4 linked regions of the Homo sapiens genome follow. The protein of the gene in region 1 interacts with the protein of each later gene in a pairwise test. Each region holds a gene or a part of one and is shown on either strand. Other genes may lie near its edges.

Region 1 (4,711 bases):
AAGTTTAGGAGATGCCACTTTTCTCATCTCTGGTAGTAGTGAGGTGAAATCCAGATGCTAATCTTGGTGTTCTCAAATGGATTTACATCTTTTAGGTCTTAAATCATTTTAATACTTTTCCCAGAGGACTGTTGGTGCTAGGCCTGACTGATTTTCACCTAGCAGCTCCATTTCTCTGGCAAGTTGGTTGCTGTTTTGCGGTGTTATTTTTTTGGACCTAATATTAGCTGTTTTGTAGTAGGCAGGTAGATGTAGTGGTCCTTTTCAGATCTAGATTTTCTCTGTGCCTGCCACTTGTGTGTTGAGGTTTCTAAGCAAGCCATGTTACATAGTTCATGTATTGATGTTTATGTTTATTCTGCCAGTGTAGTAGAAAATATATCTTCATGAATGCCAGTTACTCCCATTTTTCTTTCAATGGCATATATTCACGTTTGTTCAAGGAAAAGCCTAAGAAAATGATTGCTTTTATTTTTTAGGATATTGCATGTCATTATCATAACCACCATTCTCATTGAGAGAGAATATGCCTCATTTTTTTGTTTTTGTTCTTCTGGAGATCCCTCTTGTGGACAGTATCTTCCCTTTTCCTTTTTTTATTTATGTTCTACCTTCCTCCCTTTTAAGTGCCAGCTGAGGCACTTGGGGGAAGATAGAATAAAACAAGGTACATTACTTGTTTCAGATATTTCCAGTTAAAATTGTTTGAACACTTGCCCCATAGATGATGCTGAATAATCCCCTATTTGCTGGAAATCCTCAGCTTCAAGAACAAATGAGACAACAGCTCCCAACTTTCCTCCAACAAGTGAGTAAGACAAGATGTTAGCTATCTTGGGTAATGATTTGCTTGAAAAAATTTGATGATAAACATTTTTCCTTGCTCTTCTCTGGCTGATAGCAAAACATAGAATAGAGACCAATAATGCTGTCAATTCGTAGAGAATTCAGCTTGATCTTCACTGAGTCCCATTTCACTGCTGACCTTTTGCTTATGTTTCTTAAACATACATTCTGAGGAAAGAACATTTTGTTTTTGCTTTTGAGGACCTAGGATTTTGAATGCTTTGTTAATACCATAAACCATTTCCTTTCATTGTACTAACTTTGAAGTGCTTCCTTGTGTCATGTTACGCTTTATGGTTTAACTAATTTTGAGTAACAGGAAAGAGCTACCCTATTCTATTTTATAGGTTTTCTTCCAAATTAGTAGAAGGCTTTTTTTCCCCAAGGGGTAGATCTCATTTCCTCAAACTCGGGATTAGTAAGATTAAAATAGTCAGTGTTGTCATATAAGGAAGTAAGGAAGGTTATAGTATAAACGAGTACTTGAGATTGCCATGGTATTTTATTATTTAAAACGACAAAAGAGAAGTCAGTCTTGGTGTTTTGAAACTGGTAGTTCTAGGGCCTCATGTATTATGCAAATGACTCTCAGACCTGTAAACCATTTTCCAAGGTTGGTGTCCTTGATCTATTGTAATGATGTAAGCCTATCTTTGGTTAGTCAGGTGGTGTATATTTGGAAGTAGTAAAGCTAAACTCAGGATACATGTATTAACGTCAAATTTGGAACTGTTGTTTTAGAGTGTACCTTACTGGTAAAATTGTTATATTAGTAACAGATAACACTTGGTTAGGTGGAATATGTGGCTTTTTACCATATCCACGTCGTAAGAATTGTGCCTTTGGAGGTTGTGTCTTAGAAGTAATACTTTATCTTCTGTTGGAGAAGGGGAATAGTTGTGGCTTCCAAAGTAGCTCCTGATTTTCTTCCATTATGGAAATGGCTTTCATGATGGACTTAGGAGGAGGTCAAGTAATAATTTGCACACTAGGTTTGCTGTCAAAGAGGAGATACTTGCGTTTATTTTGGGAAAGAAATTATGGATTACCAGTGTCCAGGAGTAAGGTTTTAGATTTTCTCCAGAAGCATAACAGAGAAAAGATTTAAAAATTTACGTTCACTGATTTTAATTCCTTTGTAACCACTAGTTTTCTTTCTTCCTTAGATGCAGAATCCTGATACACTATCAGCAATGTCAAACCCTAGAGCAATGCAGGCCTTGTTACAGATTCAGCAGGGTTTACAGACATTAGCAACGGAAGCCCCGGGCCTCATCCCAGGGTAGGCTTATTTGGGGAAGATAATGAAAGTGTATAATGGTTACTTTCTCTGAGAATTTCAGATTTAGTATTATTCTGCCTGCCTTTTTTTTTTTTTTTTTTTTTTTGGTGGGATACAGGGTCTCGCCCTTCGCCTAGGCTATGAGTGTGGGGGCGCAGTTGTGGCTCACTGCAGCCTCGACCTCTCGGGCTCAAGGGATTCTCTCACCTCAGCCTCCCAAGTAGCTGGGACTACAGGTGTGCACCACCACACCTAGCTAATTTATATATATAATTTGTTGTTGTTACTGTTTTTAGAGATGGAGCTTTGCCATGTTATCCAGGCTGGTCTCAAACTTCTGGGCTCAAGAGATTTGGCCTCCCAAAGTGGGATCAGAGACATGAGCCATAGCACCTGGTTCTCCCCCACCGTTTTTATTTATTTATTTACTTATTTATTTATTAAGAGATCGGTTTTTGCTCTTTTACCCTGGCTGAACTTGAACTTCTAAGCTCAGGTGATCCTCCCACCTCAGCCTCCCCAGTAGTTGGGACACAGTGCCTGGCTATGATTGTTTTTAAGTCAGGGTTTTCAAAGTTAAAAATGATTATTATTATTTTTTAAATTCCTTTTAGAGATAGTCTCACTCCATCGAGCAGACTGGAGTGCAGTGGCGCGATCTCAGCTCACTTCAGCCTCTACCTCCTGGGCTAAAGCAATCCTCTTACCTCAGCCTGCCAAGTAACTGATACTACAGGTGTGCACCAGCACACCCAGCTAATTTTGTTTTTATTTTTTGTAGAGATGAAGTCTCAACAATGTTGCCTAAGCTGATCTCAAATTCCTGGGCTGCTGGGATCATCGGTCTCCCAGAATGAGCCACTGCACCAGGCCAAAAGGGCTTATTTTAAGAAGATGGCTTAGCTTATATTAAAATGTAACTGATTTACGGACTGGCTTCTGGTTTTGCAGGACCTTAGGATATTTCCTATTTGTGCTTTCTGTAGGTTTACTCCTGGCTTGGGGGCATTAGGAAGCACTGGAGGCTCTTCGGGAACTAATGGATCTAACGCCACACCTAGTGAAAACACAAGTCCCACAGCAGGAACCACTGAACCTGGACATCAGCAGTTTATTCAGCAGATGCTGCAGGCTCTTGCTGGAGTAAATCCTCAGGTATCAGTTCTTTTCCATTCAAGTTTTGTATTCCTTAATGTTGGAAATTTAGAAATTTCCAAAAAGAAGGAAAAAGGGAGAAAAAAGGAAAGCAGTAGTTCTTAGGTGTTTAGATTAATGAAAAATACAGTCTTAAGGATATTGAGTAAGAAAACAGGCATTACAAAAATTGTTGACTTTGGTGCTGAGACACTAAAGGAAACGTTGTTACGGTTGTAGAGAAGACATGCTACAACCTAAAGTCTTATTTTTTAGAAATTGCCTTTAAAAATGCATTTTTTTTGTTCCTATTTGAAAATCATTTGAAATAGATTTTGCTTTAAAAAAGTTCTTAGGGAGGAATGGAAACTTGATTATCCCAAGTACCTCCAGGGCAGCTGTATTCTAGTCTGTCTTTTGACTGGAAAAAAGTCCTAACTACCTTAACTCCACCCATGACACCACCTCCTGCGGTAGCTTGTGTTACATATATATATATCTCGTAAATATGGCTAAAGAATATGGACCCCCTAATAATGTGGTTGCATCTACAAACATACATTGGTTTTACTAATAATGTGCCATTATATAAAGATGATCGCCAGTTTAAACCTGTTTTATTAGGTTGTCCCCAAACTTCTTAATGTCTCAAGGTCTGTTAGGTGCTTTCTGTTTTCTTTTCTGGGTTTCTTTTTTCTTTCCCTTTCTCCTTTCCCCTTTCCTTTTCCTCCTTCCTCTTCCCCTTTCCCTTTTCCCTTTCCTCTTCCCCTTCCCCCTTTCCCCTTTTTCCTCTTTCCCCTCTTTGCCTTTCCCTTTTTTTTTTTTCTTTCCCTTTCCCTTTTGACAAAGTGCCCAGGCTGGATGCAATCACAGCTCACTGCGACCTGCACCTCCTGGGCTGCAGCAATCCTCCCACCTTAGCCTCTGGAGTAGCTGGGATTACAGGCGCAGACCACCACACCTGGCTAATTTTTGTATTTTTTGTAGAGCTGGGGTTTCAACCGTGTTGCCCAGGTTGGTCTCAAACTCCTGAGCTCAAGCGATCTCACCCGCCTTGGCCTCCCAAAGTGCTGGGATTACAGGCGTGAGCCTGGCCTGCTTTCTGTTTTCAAGCCTTACTAAATATAATAAATAGGGTAGGGTTCTGTCTCATACATATCTGTATTCCTGATAAGCTAGCGTAGCATAGTTTCTGGCTCTTGGTAGGTACTCAGTAAATATTCATGGAATAAATAAGAAAGAAGGATTTGGAGTATTAGAATTAATTGTGACATAAGTTAACTTACAAGCCTCCAAATTATCAGGTAGGCCTAGGATTGATTGGTCATTTATATGGAGATTTTTTTTTTTAACTTCATTTCTGAAGAAAAGATTTGATGCTGCTGAAATGTCAGAATTAAGAGTATAATTTTGGGCCTGAAACTGAAGCTCTTTTCTAAGAATTGACTG
Region 2 (4,665 bases), on another chromosome or scaffold:
TCCCAGCACTTTGGGAGGCTGAAGCAGGTGGATCACCTGAGGTCAGGAGTTCAAGACCAGCCTGGCCAACATGGTAAAACCCCGTCTCTACTAAACATACAAAAATTAGCCGGGTGTGGTGGCGGGCACCTGTAATCCCAGCTACTCAGGAGGCTGAGGCAGGAGAATTGCTTGAACCCAGGAGGTGGAGGTTGCAGTGAGTGGAGATCGTGCCACCACACTCCAGCCTGGGTGACAGAGCGAGACTCCGTCTCAAAAAAAAAAAAAAAAAAAGAGAGAGAATGGGCTCCCAGCTGAGGCTGGACCCATGCAATACATTGCTCACCGTAGTTAATAATAAATGCCTACAGTGCCCCCGAAAGCTTCCCTGAAACAACCCATTGCGGCCATCCAGAATCAGCCAAAATTCTATTTGGACTTGGGCTTCCTAGATGTGTTTGAGACCTATTGTATTAATTCTAGGCATACCAAATGTATTTTGATCATATCTCTTTAATACTCTTCCTGTCTTAACAAGACTAAGATAAAGACAAAGATCTTTTATTTTACTTTGGTAGCCTCCAGGGTGCAGAATAGTTAAAGACACCTCCCTCTCTCTCTTCAGCATTTGGCCAAGAGACGAATGTCCCTTTGAACAACTTCAGTGCTGATCAGGTAACCAGAGCCCTGGAGAACGTTCTAAGTGGTAAAGCCTGAAGCCTCCACTGAGGATTAAGAGCAACAGCCCCAGAGCCTGGGCTCTGCTGGACTTAGTATAATGTGAAAAAAATGTGTTCTCCTATTCCTCATAAAGCTTGTGCTGTAAAATACTTTCTCAGGGTGTTCTTGTCCTCATCTACCCTCTACCCCTTACTGTGCAACCACTGAGGCAAAGTAGCTTAATATAAAAATAAAACTTTATTCTGTCTCATCAAAAGCTACCAGCTGCTGAAGCAAACATGAAGGGTGGCGGGGGGGCAGGGATTCTAGGGCCCCAGAGTAAGTAGACCACACTGAGTCCCTTTTGGTCCTCCTGCCTGGATAGTGCTGAGTGGAAGGGGAGGAGCTGGGACCCAAAGGTCTTGGCTTAGGTGTGGGAGCAGAGAACATGAGACCTCATTATGGTCCTAAATCTCCAAAGGCTCTACTGGACAAACAAGCTTGATGTTAAGAGAGAGGGGAATGAGTGACATTGAGAAACAAGATCACCCTTGAAGAGCTGTCTGCTGGAGAGCATACACACGATCCTGGAGCTGGGCCTCTTCCTGATGCCTTTCCAGGGCTTGCAGCCCTGACTGCTGCAGGAAGACCTGAACAGCCTAGGGGCAGGGAAGAAAATTCAACACACCTGGTCTCTGTGTCCTAAGACTCAATTCCCACAGCCTCATGGGTCAGCCTACTCCAGAGGGTGCATTCCCCAACAAGAGGATGAAGTTTCTGACATGGAACCTATATAGGTTAGCCAGGCCCAGAGAAACAACTATAGTTAGGACTGGATGGGAAGGGAGCCACTGTGTGGCTTCAGAACAGGGGTGACTGAGGATGTGGGCCAGAAACCTATACCTCTGGCTGATACAGGAACAGCAGATGCAGCAGCTCCAAACTCTGGCCTACTACTTCAGTGTCAGAAAAGGCTAGTGTGTGCAGCAAGGCGGGAAGCAGGGGCCCTGGCCACAGCCGCTGGCAGTAAGCAGGACCCTTTTCTGCAACATTGCACAGAACTGTGAGCACCTGCAGATAGACACATATATAGTCTACAAAGAATGAAACACAAAGATCATAACAATAGCTAAAATATATGACATGGTGACCACATGCCCAGGCACCATGCCAAGCTCTTCTACATACATGTTCTCATACTCCTACAACTACCCTATGATGCAAGATTATCCTCAGTTATAAGTGAGGAGACTGAAGCTTAAGGTGGTTAGTTGATTTGTCCAAGGATAAATAATCCAGTTTAAGGGACACACACCTAGATTGGTTGGGCCCTGAGGCCACACACCACCACCTGCTGGCTCTCAACTAAGGGTACATCTGAGGGCTCAGGACTGCTGTCCCATACAATCCGACTACCAGATCTTGGATTCAAGTAACCCCAATACATACCATTACGCTCACCACGTTAGATACTGGCAACAGCTGTAAGAGAGGCTCAATCAGATCCAGGGAGAGCAAGGAGGTACAGAAACTAGGACTGTTTGCTGGAAGAGAAGTACCAGGGTGAAAAACTGCTTTCCCCCACCACCCCTGTCAATACTACCCACCTCAGCCTAGGCCATGAGGAAATATCCCCATTATCCAAATGTCCAGGCCTGGGCAGATTATGGTGCGTACCAGTGAGGTTGTTGAGGAGCCAAAGGCCCTCAGGGAGCAGACTGGGCTGTTTCTGGAAAAAGAACTGCAGAAGGATAAATAAGGCTGCCACAACACGCTCATCTCTGAGCTGCATTTGCCCTCCCACAGTCTCCACTGCTGCCTCAGTTAGCAGGTTGCTTAGACATCGAAGCACGGGGCATGCCAGCTGCAAAGACAAATTGGGGGGTCAGGTGTAAGAAGGAAGAGGTTACCTGCATTCCAGAGTATCAAGAAACATCTCCCAGAATTTCACCTGACATCTTCACCTACCAGCTCCAGTCCTGCATCCTCGGTTTTCTGGACAGCCCCAGCCAAGTCCAACAGCAGCAACCCCAGAGTAGACAGAGCCCCATGGCCAATGAGCAGAGGATTGCTGACCTGGCTGGGCAACAGGAAGCAAGCAGTCCCTAGGTATATAGTCAATTCCACCTTTAAGAAGAGAAGCAGTTGCCTAGGCGTGGTGGCTTATGCCTGTAATCCCAGCACTTTGGGAGGCTGAGGTGGGTGGATCACCTGAGGTCAGGAGTTTGAGACCAGCCTGGCCAACATGGCGAAACTCCGTCTCTATTAGAAATACAAAAATTAGCCGGGCATAGTGGCACGCATCTGTAGTCTCAGCTACTCAGGAGGCTGAGGCAGGAGAATCGCTTGAACCCGGGAGGCAGAGGTTGCAGTGAGCTGAGATCGCACCACTGTACTCCATCCAGCCTGGGTGACAGAGTGAGACTGTCTCAAAAAAAAAGAGAAACAGCTAAGGTCTGTGGGTCTCCTGGGCTCCAAAAAGAGAAGACAGTGGAGGGAGGAAAACTCACTATAGCAATTCCAGACACAAGTTCAAAGAGTTGAATGTCATGGAAGGGAGCCCCAGGGAAGATCTGTGGTACTTTCCCAATTGCCCTGTTACCTGCAGATGATGTAATGAAGGCACCAGGCAAACTCCACAGCGACCCCAGGGTTGAGCTTTGGGCCAGGTTGCAACATTTGTAGCATGTGCTGAGGGAGAGTGGAGGCCAAGATGGAGCTGCTGGCAGAAGCAGGGCTGTAAGTAGGAACCACGAAGATGCCAGTGGTTCTTACCAAACCCTGATAGCAGGTGGGAGAGTGTCCAAACCCAAAGCCCTGCCCAGATGGGAAAGTGTCCAAACCCAAAGCCCTTCCTAGCCAGACACATGAATTTAAAATGTGCAACAGCTTTGGAAATCATTCAGGCATCCGGGAGCTATACTACTGAGTGGGTCACCTCTGGCTGCACATCTAAAGACAATTTTACTCACGGAATGATCTTCTCTGGAGCTTCCTCAGCCTGTAGAAGCTGGGACAAGGCATATCCGAGAGCTTCCAGCACAGCCACATGGGGGGACTGGAAGTAGACAGGGTAAGGATCTGACTGGAAGCTGGGTCATCAGGTCTTCAGAGACTTTCAGCCCCTTGGCACAGGGCAGAGGCTGGAGCTACCTAACCAAAGTAGATGGAGCATGTGGGGAGGAGCAAAGGAAGGGTTGCCCAGGGAGGAAGAAAGGAGTCACCTGGATGCAGGCAGCCAAGGCTGGAACAATGCCCTGTGGCAGGAGCTGCCTTCTCACAGCCTCACTCTCCACGATCAGGTTACCCAGTGTATACAGACACAGCTCCTGAGAACAGGCAACAAAAGCACTGGGCTTGGCCTGTTTCATGCCAGGCTGCGTGTGGGGAGATGGGGAGGGGAGGTGATGGGGACGCTGGAGCAGCTATCCTTGCGGCTCACAAGAGGGTGGGGAGATGATGGGTGTAGCCATGGCTGTAGGCATAAGGGCAAACATGTTTTCTTCCTCCTACCTGCCAGCTCAAACTGGTCCCAAAAGCACAATTTTAAAATCTAAACCAAGAACAAGATAGGAAGGGACAGGGCTTACTATGAAGTCTGAGCTGTGACTGGAGAGGTAGGTGAGGAGGTAAGAAGTGGCTGGCAGGCAGGCCTCAGCAACAGTGGACTGCTCGGAGTGAGAGAGCTCATGCAGGCACCGAGCCGCCTCAAGCTGCAGCAGGGCCTGGTTGCTGGTCAGGAGCCCGACCAGGGTCCGCATGCTGCCCTCCAGCCTATGTGAGTGAGTACCAGAGCCCTGCTTAGCTTGTGGTCCATCCCTCAGAGCCCCAACTCCTCCCTCCACCACACCATCCACACTGACCGGATGAAGGTTTGCTGTGTTTCAGGGTGCTGCAAGCCTCGACGAAGGCTGACCAGAGCCCCCTCTCTCTCCTTTTCCTCTGTCCCCCGCTGGGCTTGCCGCAGGAACTGCTGCACCTGGAGTTCAGGGCAGGGAAAGGAGAACACACGGTTCACAGAAAGCA
Region 3 (4,711 bases), on another chromosome or scaffold:
TGTTGTCCCAGCTACTAGGGAGGCTGAGGCAGGAGAATTGCTTGAACCTGGGAGGCGGAGGCTGCAGTGAGCCGAGATCACGCTACTGCACTCCAGCCTGGGCGACAGGGCGAGACTCCATCTCAAAAAAAAAAAAAGGGTAGAAATGAGGGAGGGTGACAGAAAGAACACATTTCAGAGGTAGGAAAGAGCAAGAATCAAGATCCATGACACAGAGGCACCAAGCAGGGAGAAAGGCCAGTTAAGAGAGAAGGCTACATAAAAAAGAATAAAATCATATCCTTTGTGGCAACATGGATGCAGCTAGGGGTCATTATCCTAAGCAAATTAATGCAAGAAGAGAAAACCAAACACTACATGTTCTCACTTGCAGAGTGAACTGGGAGCTACACATGGACACAAAGAGGGGAACAAGAGACACCAGGGCTTGAGGGTGGAGAGTGGGAGGCTGGTGAGGATTGAAAAACTACCCATCTAGTACTATGCTCACTACCTAGGTGACAAAATCATTTGTACACCAAACCTCAGCAATGTGCAATTTGCCCGTGTACCAAACCTGCACATGTATCCCCTGAACCTAAAACAAGAATTGGAAGGAAATGAGAGACAGAAGACTACAAAGGATCTTAAAGTTTAAGCATTATGAAAAAGAGCCAGAATTCTATCACTCCACCCCACCCCCCCAATAATTATTAGGGCAGTTTCAGAACTCCTGAAAGATACAAAGAACAAGATGGATTAGGAGGGACCTAGAGCAAATCCTAACAGGAGGGAGCTCAATTCACAGGGTTTACAATAAGGCAAGCAATAAATCCTGAAATTTGGGAAATCTCAAAGAGTAAAAGACAGATAAGGATTCCAGGAGAGGTAAGGAATTCGGATTTAGGATACTGCAGGCATTTACAATACTGCAGTCCTGAAATGTTGAAGTCTCCAAGAGCAACAAACAGACAACAAACAACAAACAGATAAGGATTCCAAGTCACACCTGGTTAGAATCTGCATCCTGCCCTGGGCACGGGAACAAAGGAATAGGAGATTTCAAGCCTGAGTAACCGAGTCATCTGGGATTTTATCGCAGAAGAAAGAAACTGAAGGAGGGTGGTAAGAGTAGAATGAGAGAATTCAGATTTGAGACAAAGTCAGTTTGTGTGGACTGAAGGGCATGCACCTAGGAATGTCTTGTAGACCACTGAAACCACAGGACTAGCCAGGCATGGACTGTGGAGATATGGCTCTGAGAGTTGCCCACTCAGGGGTTCGGTGTCAATGGCAGACATCCTCTCCACATCAGAGACCCAGGGGCAGAGAGTGTTGCCCGTAAATCCCAAGTCCCAGGAACTCTCAAAACCTCAGCAAAGTCTTTACAGAGAAGCCCCAAGCTGGCCCTATGGAGACCTTAATACAAAGGAGCTTCTGCCAAAGACAACAAATCAAAAAGATGTCTGACTTTGGTAGGACAGGTCAGGTCCTTCCACACAGACAGCAGTGCTCATGAGAACCACAGTGTGGCATGAGGCTGTCCCTGGGGAGAGGCAGGCGGGAGAAAGGAAACTTCACAGAATACCCTTTGCTGCCTACAAATTCTGCACCACAGACTGCCTACTCAAAATAACACCATAAAGTTTAACTTTCTTCAAAAGGTCAGTCAACTTAGTGGGCTCAATGCCATCCCTACTGTTGGGGCAAACAACATGAGAACAAATATCAGTGACTGGCATAGGAAGCTGCCCGGTGGGGACCATACGTGGGGGTGGGGAGGGGGTGCCTCACTATTACCCCAGCCAAGTAACCACCACATGACAAGACTTGGAAGGCAGGAACCCTGCCCAGTGCCAGGAACAAATTAGCATTCTTTCAAGGAGACTTTGGCAAAATTAATAGTGAAGAGTCAGTGTCCGTCTCTTTTCTGAACCAGAGGCAGTATGACACACAAACAGCTGTACTTTTTCACCCCCAACAGCCTCTAGTGCCAGTCCAGAAGGGCTGGGAGACCTTAACAACATAGAATGTAGCTTAACAAACTGTGGAGAGGAATCTCCTCCACCTACGTGGATCCTAGAAAAGATGGAAAAGTGTGAAAACCAGAAACAGTAACACTCAAATCTTTTCAAACAGTTTAAAGGATGATTATCTGCCCTGTGAAATTAGTTACAATGGCCGGGCACGGTGGCTCACGCTGTACCAGCCCTTTGAGAGGCCGAGGCGAGAAGATCGCTTGAACCCAGGAGTTCAATGGTCAACATTTTAAGACCCTGTCTCTATTATAAAATAAGTATGTATATATTTATATATATAAATTCAAAAAAGAAATTAGTTACAAGATTCATTTTAAAAAGAGTTTCTCAAATATATTCAAGATTATATAATTTCTGGCAGTTGTAAGGTTGAGAATAAAGTGAGGGAGGAGAAATGCTTTACATTAGTAGGACAGTGCAGGTTTTATACAATCTTCTTGTTTATCAAACATATTCTGAATGATTTTATCAAGTATTATGTTCCCATATCCATCAGCTGTTAGACTCTCATGCTCATTTTCTACCTTACCAATTTAAATATGCAGTCGGCTGGGTACGGTGGCTCATGCCTGTAATCCCAGCATTGTAGAAGGCCAAGGCAGGCAGATCACCTGAAGTCAGGAATTTGAGACCAGCCTGGCCAACATGGTGAAACCCTGTCTCTACTAAAAATATAAAAATTAGCTGGGTGTGATGGTGGGCGCCTGTAATCCCAGCTACTCGGGAGGCTGAGGCAGGAGAATCACTTGAACTCGGGAGGCAGAGGTTGCAGTGAGCTGAGATCACGCCATTGGACTCCAGCCTGGGCAACAAGAGAGAAACTCCATCTCAAAAAATAAATAGATAAATAAAAATAAAACTCTTAAATATTATTGATTTAAAAAAGATTGTATTATTTCTTTAAATCAGTAGGGAAAAAATTGATTATGTGGAGTCAAAACAGGCAATAAAATTCTGAATAATATCCTTATGAACACTGATAACACCAGCCCCTCTCAGAAATACAGACACCGTCCATAGCAGACCCTACAGTCAGTGAATGTTCTAAAGAGAAGCGTTGAATACTGAATGACTGCTTATTACTAGAACAAATGGTTCTCATGCTAACAGTCATTAACTGGAAAGCATTTCTTCCAAGCACCCTCACCCACTGCCTGGGTAAGGCGCCTTGTGGTCTTCAAGCACTGCGCCGGGAGTGCCTTTCAAGGATACCAGAGTGGCCACTCCCAGGAAAGTGCTCACAAATGTCTAAATCACAGTCATCCGATAACCAGGAAAACTGAAACTAATCAACTTTCTCTATAAAACACATACATTTTTTTCTGCAAAGAGTCTCCACATTTACTCTGAGACCTTTTTAACATTTAACATTTTGAAAGATTTATATAGTATTTTTTTGATTTTGTAGCCAAATAAGAAAAATAGGTAACATTTGGGTATCATATCTATCAATGTTAATCAATAAAGAAGCTTTTAAAGTCTGTAAATTAATTCTATGAGAAAAAAATAAAAAACAACAACCGGGAATTAGAAGACCTTCATAGGCCAGGCGCGGTGGCTCACGCCTGTAATCCCATCACTTTGGTAGGCCAAGGCGGGAGTATCACCTGAGGTCAGGAGTTCGAGACCAGCCTGACCAACATGGAGAAACCCCATCTCTACTAAAAATACAAAATTAGCTGGGCGTGGTGGCATGCCCGTAATCCCAGTTACTCAGGAGGCTGAGGCAGGAGAATTGCTTGAACCCAGGAGGCAGAGGTTGCGGTCAGCTGAGATTATACCATTACACTCCAGCCTGGGCCAACAACAGCGAAACTTCGTCTCAAAAAATAAATAAATAGAAGACCTTCATAATACGAACCATTCTGTATCTAACCAACTAAGTCATCTTGAGCTAATAACTTAAACTCTCTGAGCTGTGGCATCCTCTTCTATAAAATAACTACCTCAAGCCGGGTGCCATGGCTCAGGCCTGTAGTCCTGAGCTACTCAGGAGACTGAGGTAGGAGGATGGCTTGAGCTCAGGAGTTTAAAGCTGTAGTGAGCTATGACTGTGCCACTACACTCCAGCCTGGGCAACAAGGTGAGACCCTGTTCCTAAAAATAAAAAACACCTTTAAAGTCCCTTCTAGTCCTAACAACCAAGGAGAGCAATTTAACATTTTTTAAAGATGATAAAAATTCTTTTTTTTTGAGATGAAGTCTCGCTCTGTCCTCCTGGCTGGAGTGCAGTGGTGGGATCTCGGCTCACTGCAAGCTCCGCCTCCCGGGTTCACGCCATCACGCCATTCTCCTCAGCCTCCTGAGTAGCTGGGACTACGGGCGCCACCACACCCAGCTAATTTTTTTTTTTTTTTGTAGTAGAGAAGGGGTTTTGCCGTCTTAGCCAGGATGGTCTCAATGTCCTGACCTCGTGATCCGCCCGCCTCAGCCTCCCAAAGTGCTGGGATTACAGGCGTGAGCCACCGCGCCCGGCCGATAAAAATTCTTCTAATGAAATACCATGTTAACCTGGGCAAACACAAAACATTTTTTAAAAATAGATTTTGGAAAAACTAATTTTAAATAGTCAAAAATCATGCAGTAATTGAGTTTTTAAAATAAAATCATACTGTTTGAGCAACAAAAATAAGAAACATAAAATAATTGGTTATATGAGAAAATAATCTTTCACCTCCTCTCCCTGTTAAGCC
Region 4 (5,362 bases), on another chromosome or scaffold:
AAACCCTCTGTTATTAAGAGATAAATATGATTCCCAGGAACATTGCTCTGTTCTGCTTTATTATTATTGGTCATATCTGGTCATACGCCCTGAAAACCCTGAAAATGGGATTGCTAAAATCGCCTTAATCTAAACTCCATTTCCCTCCCACTTGCTCCCTGGGCTTGGAGCACAACCACTCAAACAGAACTGGCTTTTGGTCAGTAAGGAAGAAGTGAGCAACGGCTGCGGTGTAGACCCTCGTCAATGCCTGCGACGGTTACACCTGGAGACAAGCTCCCCAGTGTCCTCAGGAGCAGCGGAGATGAGAATCCATGATAGGGTGGGCTCTGTCCCCCTCAGCTCCGTGATGCCGAAATGCACTGCTGGTCCTGGTCCTGCTCCTCATTCCACACCCGGCTGAGTGCCCATCTGACCCCAGACCTCAACGCGAGGTTCTAAGCACTGTCTCCTGACCCTTCAACCCCTTCGGGATTTTGCATGTGCTGTTGGACCACCTCACTCCCACCTGGAGCCAAATGACACTGTAGGAGGAGGGGAAGAGAACTTATGCTAGTAGAGTGTGTGTGTGTGTGTGTGTGTGTGTGTGTGTGAATGTGTGTGTGTATTATACATAATATATATAATTACAACATTGTTAATGGGGCCGGGCGCGGTGGCTCACACCTGTAATCACAGCACTTTGGGAGGCTGAGACGGGCAGATCACATGAGGTCAGGAGTTCAAGACCAGCCTGGCCAACATGGTGAAACCCCGTCTCTACTAAAATACAAAAATTAGCCGGGCATGGTGGCGTGCGCCTGTAGTCCCGGCTACTCAGCAGGCTGAGGCAAGAGAATTGCTTGAGCCTGGGAGGCGGAGGTTGCAGTGAGCCAAGATTGCACCACTGCACTCCAGCCTGGGCAACAGAGTACGACTCCATCTCCACACACACATACACACACACACACACACACACAAATTGTTAATTGTATATGTATAATTATAATAGTTTATATATATTAACAATTATATATAAACTTGCATATATATAGTATTTGCTGTATTATTATATATAAACAATTATATATGTAATGACTGTATAAAATAGATAAACAATTTTAACTAATAATATTATATTAATTATATTATTATTAGATGTAATAATTATAATTATTTATATATAATATTTATTATTATGTATCATTGTTAGAACACTTAACATGAGCTCTGTCCTCTTAACAAATTTCAAGTGAACAAGACGTTATTGCTGACGATGGGTCGTATGTGGTGCAGCAGATCTCTAGGCCTGTTTGTTAATAACTCCCCATTTCCCCCTCCTCCCAGCCCCCGTAACCACCATTCCCTGCTGTGATGTTGTGACTCTGGTGACTTTGCAGATCTCCTGTAAGTGACATCATGCAGTACTTGGTCTCTGCATCTGCGTCGCTTGGCGTGATGTCCTCAGGTTTCGTCTGTGTTGTCGCCCATGGCAGAATTTTCTTCCTTGTTTAAGGCTGAATAGTATTCCCCTGTGTGTGCACCACATTTTCTATATCAATTCTTCTATCAATGGACATTTAGATGATTTTCACGTCTTAGCTATTGCGAATAGTGCTGCAGTGATCAGGGGAGTTCAGACGGCTCTTTGCATACTGAATTTGTTTCTTTTAAATATAGACCCAGAAGTGGCATTGTTGGACCATACGGTAGCTCTATGTTTAGTTTTTTGAGGAACCTCCCCACTGTTCTCTATAGTGAGTGCACAATTTTTCAGCCTCCCAAAGTGCTGGGATCACAGGCGTGAGCCACCGCGCCCGGCGCACTGTAGGATCTTTTTTAATGCATTATATACCTTGCTGAGATTTTAGCAGAGATCACAATATTAAAAACTTGGGGAAGGATTTCTATGACTCTTATTTTAAATACGAGGACATGTCGACTTCTAGTTTTGTAACATCTTGCCCAAGAGCGGTGGTCGTTAACGTGTGGAGTTGGGATGACATCCAAGTCAGTTGGTTGCACGACCTTTATTCTGTCTTGTCCCATAGATTTAGAAAGAGGCTGACACATCGGGTAACTAGTTTAAGGTCATCTGATCATGCGGGTAAGCGACATTTTTCAGAAACCAAGGCCCTCCCTCTCATCTCACTAGTGGGAAGGGTGGAAAGAACAGAACAGAAAGCTCTCCCTCTTGTGTGAGGCAGTTGCTGTGGAAGCCCCACGGGCAGGAGGCCCCCGGCCAGCACATCCTGTCTGCTTGTGTCTGCTGCAGAGTTCTGGGACCGGGGCCATGTCTCCACACCTCACTGCTCTCCTGGGCCTAGGTGAGTCCTGGAGGGAGCGGGAAGGACTGGAAAGGGGGTCGGGAGGTCTGGAAAGTTCCCTGCTCAAGCCTGACTCTAGTCCAGAAGATTCTGGGGAGGAAAGTGTCCTCCTCCCCCCAAGACTGCCCTACTGCTCTCCCTGGGGCCTAAGTCTGATCAGAGACAACCTTGTCCTAAAAACAGGGGCCCGGGTGTGGGGATGAGGTCAGCTTTAAGAAGGGCTGGGGGGCCAGGCGCGGTGCTCACACCTGTAATCCTAGCACTTTGGGAGGCTGAGGCAGGTGGATCACCTGAGGTCAGGAGTTTGAGACCAGCCTGGCCAACGTGGTGAAACTCCATCTCTACTAATACAAAAATTAGCCGGGCATGGTGGCGGGCACCTGTAATCCCAGCTACTCGGGAGGCTGAGGCAGGAGAATTGCTTGAACCCGGGAGGTGGAGGTTGCAGTGAGCTAAGATCGCGCCACTGCACTCTAGCGTGGGCGACAAGAACAAAACTCCGTCTCCAACAACACCAAAAAGAAGGGCTGGGGGAGCAGGAGCCTTTTTGGAAGAGGAGACTTTGGGATTTATCTTGAAACCATTTTGCAGCAAGAAGGATTACATGGAGACAGTGATGTCGAGGAGGGTTGGCTTGGTCGTTATGAAATGCTGAATGCCCCCCAGCTCCGTCAAGCCCCCTTTTGACAGCAGCCCTGTAAGGAGACTGGGCAGTGGGCATTTTTCTCACTGGGGCTTCTCTTCCAGTGCTCTGCCTGGCCCAGACCATCCACACGCAGGAGGGTAAGTCATGCCTTCGTCCCGTCTTCCCAGTCCCCTCTGTCACCCCAAAGGCAGTGCTGGGTGGGAGTGATGTTGATTCTTAGAGGGCCTGGAGAGATCCCTTTAAATATACCCTAGATTGCAAACTATTCCAAATGTAAAATGCATAACCCTCACCCCTTTCTCTCCTTCATTCTCCACCTGTCATGTTTTGCTTTTCTTATTTTCAAAAATCCTATATTTTATTTTATTTTTATTTTTGAGATGGAGTCTCACTCCATCACCCAGGCTAGAATGCAGTGGCATAATCTCGGCTCACTGCAACCTCTGCTCCCAGTTTCAAGCGATTCTCCTGCCTCGGCCTCCTGAGTAGCTGGGATTACAGGCACCCACCACCACCCCTGGCTAATTTTTTTTTTTTTTGTATTTTTAGAAGAGATGGGGTTTCACCATATTGGCCAGGCTGGTCTCGAACTCCTTACCTTATGATCCGCCCGCCTCAGCCTCCCACAGTGCTGGGATTACAGGCATGAGCCACTGTGCCCAGCCAAAAATCTTATTTTTAATCGACAAATAATTGTATATGTTTGTGGGGCACGATGTGATGTTACAACGTATGTAAACATTGTGGAAAGATTAAATAAGGCTAAATAACATATCAATCACATCACATACTTATTGTGATGAGAACATTTAAAACCTACTTTTAGCAATTTTGAAATATATAATAAGTTATTATTAACTATAGTCAGCCTGCTATGCAATAGATCTCAAAAACTTACTCCTCCTGTTTAACCGAAACTTTGTACCATTTGATCAGTGTCTCTCCCAAGCCCCCCATTTCCCGACTTTAATAGCATCATTCTAATCTCTAACTCTGTGAGATGACCTTTTTTGTTTGTTTGTTTGTTTTGGGATGGAGTCTCACTCTGTCACCCAGGCTGGAGTGCAATGGCACAATCTCGGTTCACCGCAAACTCAACTTCTCAAGTTCAAGCGATTCTCCTGCCTCAGCCTCTCGAGTAGCTGGGATTACAGGTGCATGCCACCACGCCCAGCTAATTTTTGTGTTTTTAGTAGAGATGGGGTTTCACCATGTTGGCCAGGCTGGTCTTGAACTCCTGACCTCAGGTGATCCACCCACCTCGGCCACACAAAGTGCTGGGATTACAGGTATGAGCCACTGCACCCGGCCGAGATGAACTTTTTTAGATTCCACATGCGGTATTTGTCTTTCTGTACCCAGCTTATTTCACTTAGCATAATGTCCTCTGGTTCATCCATGCTGTTGTGAATGACAGAATGTCCTTCCTTTTTTAGGGCTGAATAATATTCCATTGCATATATACACCACATTCTCCTCATCCATTCATTTGGTGGTGGTTATATAACTCAGGTTATTTCCAGGTCTTGGCAGCTGTGAGTAGCGCTGCGGTCACCCTGGGAGTGCAGGCATCACCTCCACACACCGATTTCCACAATGAGAATTCAAACCCAACACAACCAAGGCTGAACCCGGCACTTTTCCCCAGACGAGCCCACACTTCACTCGGCAGCTTCTTGGCGGGGAACGTGACAGTCACAAAGGGCAGACTCTGAACACTCATCCTCTTCTCCATCCTCCTGGATGCACCATGTCACCCAGTCCTGGTGATTTCACTCTAAATTTTTCTCATCTTTCCCTCTCTCTTCATCGACTTTTCCTGCATCACCCCCAGGTGACAGCCCTTCTCCCCTCCGTGGCTCCCCGAGGCCGGCCTCAGCCTGTCCATGCCACTGCTGCCTGCTCCCTTCCTGACCCCAGGGACTGGCGATTTGCAAAAGCACAACCATGACCATTGTACTTTCCACAGTTTTTAAATTGCATTCAAAAATTTTCATTTAATATCTCATCGTAAGATGAAGTTTTTTTCTTAGAGCCCTTCCCCTGTTTATCTTCAGATAGAATCAACCCAGGCACCTCTCTTTGTTCTGGACATGCCCATTTTCCCAGCCACATCCTGTCCCTGTGACCTGGGGCTCACTCATCTCTACATTCCTCCAGGTTCTTTCGCTTTCTCAAACACTCCATATGCCGCTCAACATGGTGGTTCTTCTCACATGCTGATTTTTTTTTTTTTTTTTGAGATGGTGTTTCATTCTTGTTGCCCAGGCTGGAGTGCAATGGCTCGGTCTTGGCTTACTGCAACCTCTGCCTCCCTGGTTGAAGCAATTCTCCCTGCCTCAACCTCCCAGGTAGCTAGGATTACAGGTGCCTGCCACCATGCCTGGCTGATGTTTTTGTATTTTTAGTA

The links. Proteins that work in one complex are often made in the same cells at the same time.
Region 2: the proteins of UBQLN1 (region 1) and TMCO6 interact in binary tests that used the Homo sapiens proteins (3 or more experiments, as listed by UniProt).
Region 3: the proteins of UBQLN1 (region 1) and CDS2 interact in binary tests that used the Homo sapiens proteins (3 or more experiments, as listed by UniProt).
Region 4: the proteins of UBQLN1 (region 1) and LAIR2 interact in binary tests that used the Homo sapiens proteins (3 or more experiments, as listed by UniProt).

The regions. Positions count from the first base shown.
Region 1 is NC_000009.12:83,662,447-83,667,157, reverse strand, and holds part of UBQLN1 (ubiquilin-1), read left to right. Parts: intron 1-724; coding exon 725-808; intron 809-2,012; coding exon 2,013-2,128; intron 2,129-3,114; coding exon 3,115-3,283; intron 3,284-4,711. UniProt on the Homo sapiens protein: Plays an important role in the regulation of different protein degradation mechanisms and pathways including ubiquitin-proteasome system (UPS), autophagy and endoplasmic reticulum-associated protein degradation (ERAD) pathway.
Region 2 is NC_000005.10:140,641,618-140,646,282, reverse strand, and holds the end of TMCO6 (transmembrane and coiled-coil domain-containing protein 6), read right to left. Parts: intron 4,619-4,665; coding exon 4,503-4,618; intron 4,414-4,502; coding exon 4,230-4,413; intron 3,969-4,229; coding exon 3,864-3,968; intron 3,793-3,863; exon of another isoform or gene 3,698-3,792; coding exon 3,612-3,697; intron 3,377-3,611; coding exon of another isoform or gene 3,359-3,376; coding exon 3,242-3,358; intron 2,720-3,241; coding exon 2,608-2,719; intron 2,504-2,607; coding exon 2,317-2,503; intron 2,184-2,316; coding exon 2,089-2,183; intron 1,711-2,088; coding exon 1,543-1,710; intron 1,299-1,542; coding exon 1,185-1,298; 3' UTR 879-1,184; downstream 1-878. Other genes in the region: NDUFA2 (NADH dehydrogenase [ubiquinone] 1 alpha subcomplex subunit 2), read left to right, coding at 605-696.
Region 3 is NC_000020.11:5,132,675-5,137,385, reverse strand, and holds part of CDS2 (phosphatidate cytidylyltransferase 2), read right to left. Parts: intron 1-4,711. UniProt on the Homo sapiens protein: Catalyzes the conversion of phosphatidic acid (PA) to CDP-diacylglycerol (CDP-DAG), an essential intermediate in the synthesis of phosphatidylglycerol, cardiolipin and phosphatidylinositol.
Region 4 is NC_000019.10:54,500,647-54,506,008, forward strand, and holds the start of LAIR2 (leukocyte-associated immunoglobulin-like receptor 2 isoform a precursor), read left to right. Parts: upstream 1-2,184; 5' UTR 2,185-2,272; coding exon 2,273-2,306; intron 2,307-3,053; coding exon 3,054-3,089; intron 3,090-5,362.